2 separate regions of the Homo sapiens genome follow, and region 1 is linked to region 2. The links come from fine-mapping of genetic effects on gene expression. Tissue or cell type: blood mononuclear cells. Region 2 holds a variant in brackets; the other region holds the start of a gene. All regions are shown on one strand. Distances are between the middles of the regions. Region 1 holds the start of TRPC6 (transient receptor potential cation channel subfamily C member 6). Region 2 overlaps TRPC6 (transient receptor potential cation channel subfamily C member 6).

Region 1 (2,500 bases), 39 kb after region 2:
CGCCCCGGGTGAAAAGGTTCGCGCCGCCGGTGGAGAGTCCTATTGGTTCTATTTCTGTCTTCACTCCAAGGCCCCAGGACCGGGGAGAGGTCCTGGTCTAACTTTGGCTGTCCCACGGTCCAAGGACCTCAGCGCTCAGCCCGAAACGCTAAGCCAAGCGTGGAGACCGCCGGGCGCACCCAGCACCCAGGCAGCTCCAACCCTTGGAGTTCTAGTCATCTCTCCCCCACATAGGCTAAGAGTCACCCGGGCGCACATCTGAATCAGCCCCCTGTTCAGATCCCGCCTGTTACGTAGCGATCCTGTCTCTTGTAGAGCGCAGGATGAAGGGGTCTGGAGAAATCGACCACCCATCTAATCACCTGCAATGGTGGTGTTACTATGCGGTCTCACTCTCGTGGGCAAACATATCCATGCGTACCTACGAGGAGCAAACCTAGACAACCCCGCCTCCCCCACTCCCCGCGCGCCCCTCCACTCACTCAGGTCCCAGCCCTGGCTCTCGCGGACCTCCCAGCACCGTCCTAGGAGGTACACACGCGGGTTCAGGACGCGCGCGGACGGACTCGGCCACTCCTGCGAGCGCACAACCTCCCTCCGCGCAGCCCGCGCCCGATCCGCCCCGCGTCGCCGGCACTCACAAGCAGGGGTAGTAGCCGTAGCAAGGCAGCGGGGCTTGCGGGCAGCCGTCTTCTCCCAGCTCCGAGTCCATGAGCAGATAGTCCTGGCTCTCGTTGCGCCGCGCAGCGGCTCCGGCAGCGCCCCGGGGAGAACTGCCCCTCCGGGGCCCGAACGCCGGGCTCTGGCTCATGGCGGGAACGCCCGACTGGCCTGGGCCCCGCTCCCGGGGGAGCCGAGTGGGCAGTTCCAGCGGGGACCCGGTGCGGAGGGTTCGCGTCAGCGGCCGAACTGGACCTGGGCAGACCGGTGCCCAGGGGACGACGGTGAAGCAGGGGGTGCAGACGCCCGCCGCAAGTGGCTCGCCCACTGGCCCGGGGAAAAGTCACCACTTAAGGGGGTGCAAAGAGGATCTTGACCTGAGCAGGTCAGGCCGAGGAGACCCCGCGAGGATGCGTCTGGGGCGCCCGGGCAGAGAGGGCACAGGCGGGGCCGCTGGTGGTAGCGAAGCGTAAGAGCGGAGAGCAAGGGAGACGGAGCTGAAGAGTTACTATGTCAACAGAGACTCTCCAGCCCTCAGCTCCCGCCTTCATCCCCCGCACTCTCCGTCAAGATCCCCACCTTTAAAGGGATCCGAGCGACGTTCTAGAAAGCAGCCAAAGCCTGTCCTGTAGCCACAACTTTCAGGAGGCGGTATGAGCCTGAACTAGGAGGAGCCAGGCACGCACTCTTTTTTTCCCCTCCACTATTTAGTTGGCTCATTTAGTAAGGATACCAACTGCGGACTTCGTAGGAAGCTTCCTTTAAGAACCACTCTCAAAGAGCCAAGGAAACCTGTTCCTTAAAAGGGACACGAGCCTCTTCTTTCTCCAGACTGCCTTCATTTTCTTTGGTCATTTTCTCTCTTACCCTCAACTCATAAAGTTATTATGACTCTGCTTTAAAAATGAACAACGTTCTATGTTCCAAACGCCAGATGTTCCCAGTTCCTGAGAAAACCAACAAAAATAGGCAAGCATTTTCCAATGATACCGATAAAGAGGCCAACAACCTGCTTACTTCAGAGAAAAAATTTTCCTTCCGTCACTGCGAATGCAAGAATGATTTCTCTGCCAGATGTTTCCCACGTTTCCAAGCTGTTTTATTTTTAAGACTTAGTTTTAAATTCTGATTAATATGCATACGTGTGAGAAGTAAAAACTTGTCAACAAGGATGAATCAGTATTTGTAGACCTTTAAGCAGTAGTAGCCAATTAAGAATCCATTCATTAAGTCAACAAATATTTAATGAATGCCAACTGCGTTTCAAATCATTTCAGAATTCGGAGGCAAAGAAGCAGATGAGGCACCTGTCTGCCCTCATAGAGCTTTCGTGGCAGAAAGGGGGACCAATTAAATAAGCAAATGAAAAAATATCAAGGACAAATGCTACAATGAAAATAAAACAGGTTGATGTGATGGCAGCTGGTGAATGACTACTTCAGATGAGATGGTTAAAAGAGGCCCCTCCAAGGAGGTGCTCGTTAAGTTGAGACATGCATGGCAAGCAGCCAGCCATGAAAAGATCAGAGGCCCATTGCAATTGGATGAAAGAAAGCCAGACTGAAATCTGTCTGCAAAGGTGCCTTTGCTTCCCATGAACAGGTGGACAACAAAATGAATGTTGGAAGTGTGGGAAAATGCAATTGATTTGATAGAAGGGAAAAGAGCTCACACATTTAGAAACTTCTGAGTTTGCCTTTAAATTTAGAACTGAAACTCAGAGAGAGCAGAAACCACTGTGTCCTGAGGATCCAGCTTCGTATTTGACACAGGTGTGTAGGGTGCATGCATGCATGCTTGGGTGGGTGAGTGGGTGGGTGGGTGGATGGATGGATGGATG
Region 2 (3,035 bases):
AAAACACAAATGCGATCTAATTAAACTCAGGAACTTCTGACAGCAAAAGAAACTGTCATCAAAGTGAACAGGCAAACTACAGAATGGGAGAAAAATTTTGCAATTTACTCATCTGACAAATGGCTAATATCCAGAATCTAAAATGAACTTAAACAAGTTCACAAGAAAAAAACAACCCCATCAAAAAGTGGGCAGAGGATATGAACAGACACTTCTCAAAAGAAGACATTTATGCAGCCAACAAACAAATGAAAAAATGCTCATCATCACTCGTCATTAGAGAAATGCAAATCAAAACCACAATGAGATACCATCTCACACCAGTTAGGATGATGATCATGAAAAAGTCAGGAAACAACAGATGCTGGAGAGGATATGGAGAAATAGGAACCCTCTTACACTGTTGGTGGCAGTGTAAATTAGTTCAACCATTGTGGAATATAGTGTGGTGATTCCTCAAGGATCTAGAACTAGAAATACCATTTGACTCAGCAATCCCATTACTGGGTATATACCCAAAGGATTATAAATCATTCTACTCTAAAGACACATGCACACATATGTTTATTGTGGCAATGTTCACAATAGCAAAGACCTGGAACCAACCCAAATACCCATCAATGATATACTTGATAAAGAAATTGTGGCTCATATACACCATGGAATAGTATGCAGCCATAAAAAAGGATGAGTTCATGTCCTTTGCAGGGACATGAATGAAGCTGGAAACCATCATTCTCAGCAAACTAACACAGGAACAGAAAAACAAACACCACACGTTCTCACTCATAAGTGGGAGATGAACAATGAGAACACATGGACACAGGGAGGGGAACATCACACACTGGGGCCTGTTGGGGGTGGCGGGCTAGGGGAGGGATAGCATTAGGAGAAATACCTAATGTAGATGACGGGTTGATGGGTGCAGCAAACCACCATGGCACATGTATACCTATGTAACAAACCTGCATGTTCTGCACATATACCCCAGAACTTAAAGTATAATTAAAAAAAATGTTTGTTCAGTGGTCTTCAAATTAATTGACACTTTTTGAACTTTTCTAGGAATGTACTTGGAGCACCAGTAGTGCTATATGTAGAAACCCTGCCCTGTGAAATAACATTGTAGGAATTTGTTCAATTTATGAAGATCACCTAGCCTTTAAGTATGAGACTCCTATAAGAGTTATTGTTCTGAATGAAAAATAGGTCTGTATTAGTCTTTATACACACACACATACACACATAAACACAAACATCATATACAGTCAGCCCTATGTATCCATGGATCCTACACCCACTGATTCAACCAATTGTGGATCAAAAATATTT[GAAAT/G]AAATAAATAATAACCATACAACAATTAAAATATGGTAAATAAGCAATACAACAACTATTACACAGTATTTACATCGTATTAGGTTTTGTAAGTAATATAGAGATTATTTATAGTATATAGGAGGGTGTGCCTAGGTTATATGAAAATACTACCCCATTTTATATCAGGGACTTAAGCATCCATATATTTTGCTATCTGCGTGGGGAGTGGGGAACCCAAAACCAATCCCCTATGGATAGTAAGGAACAACTGTATATCTATCCATTACATTGCCCCAACAATTGATATAAACAAAACTTCTATTTTACAAGGCACATTAGCTAGTTTTGTAATCCATAAAATAGCTTTCTTGAGATTATTAGATCGTCTGGGTCTTTTGACTGCTAATCCAATACTCTGTTAACATTATTAAGTCTCTGATAAAAACCAAATAGTCAGATAAAACACTCATCTGGATTCAGCCTTAATACATTTCTTATAATTTAGCTAACACATTAGGAGTTGCCCCCTATTTCTTAAAATAATTTTTAGGTAGATGATGGAGAGGGCTTTATCATTTACCTTCCTTTAATTAAGACATCTTTCCACTTGCTTGAGATAGACTTCATTTTTCATATTAGCTACTAAACATAGGAATCAATTTTATCTGACCTATTTACACGTGTAGCATTTCTGGTGTTTTCTGGTTTTCACACAGATGGGCCCTTCATTTATTTGCTTGCCTATGATGTTCAACTTGTTCCGTTCTGTGAATAGGGCTATAAAGAAGAAGAGAGAGTGAAGATAAACTGAGTTCACAGGAAATAAAAAAATAATGGATCTAGTATCACATTTATAACTCTTTTTTTTTTTTTTTTTTTTTTTTTTTTTTTTGAGACGGAGTCTCGCTCTGTCGCCCAGGCCGGACTGCGGACTGCAGTGGCGCAATCTCGGCTCACTGCAAGCTCCGCTTCCCGGGTTCACGCCATTCTCCTGCCTCAGCCTCCCGAGTAGCTGGGACTACAGGCGCCCGCCACCGCGCCCGGCTAATTTTTTTGTATTTTTAGTAGAGACGGGGTTTCACCTTGTTAGCCAGGATGGTCTCGATCTCCTGACCTCATGATCCACCCGCCTCGGCCTCCCAAAGTGCTGGGATTACAGGCGTGAGCCACCGCACCCGGCCTTATAACTCTTTATCCTCATACTCATGTGATGAGATAAAGGAACCACTGCAAAGATTTCAAGATAACATGGAGGTTCCTCGGTAACAAGTTAGTGAATAAATACATGCATAAGTTAATGAATGAGTGAATGAAGTGACCAGAGAAACCTGACTTTGAATCTTGGCTTTTCCACTTAGTACCTAGAAAATTGGGCAAGCTACTTAGCCTTTCTGAGCTTTGGCTTTTTCATGTACAAGGTGGGAATTGTAATACTTACTTGTAACACTGATCTGAGTTTTAAACATGATGTATATAAAGCAACTATCATATCATTTGGGAAGCAGTGGATTTCAAAAAAAGTGAAGTGCAGCTGCAGGAAAATTGATGAAATTTAACTTCTATTCATGATTTTTTTAAAAAGATGTCTTTTACCAAACAAAGACTGTATACATATAACACAAATATCTATCAATAATAGAATGGATAAATAAAGGATGGTATATTTATACAAGGGATACTGTACAGTAATAAAATGAACTAGAGAGACTAAAATTTT

Evidence for each region.
Region 1: it holds the start of TRPC6, and the variant in region 2 is fine-mapped to the expression of TRPC6 in blood mononuclear cells (TOPMed, PIP above 0.99).

What each region holds. Positions count from the first base shown.
Region 1 is chr11:101,582,693-101,585,192 of GRCh38, forward strand. TRPC6 (transient receptor potential cation channel subfamily C member 6) reads right to left here and starts at 1,315. Exons shown (of 13, transcript NM_004621.6): 1 at 642-1,315. The coding sequence starts at 811.
Region 2 is chr11:101,543,873-101,546,907 of GRCh38, forward strand. All of the region lies in intron 1 of TRPC6 (transient receptor potential cation channel subfamily C member 6), which reads right to left. Among named protein-coding and RNA genes, the nearest start is that of MIR3920, 25 kb to the left of the region's middle. The variant GAAAT/G (reference allele first, on the strand shown) is at 1,333.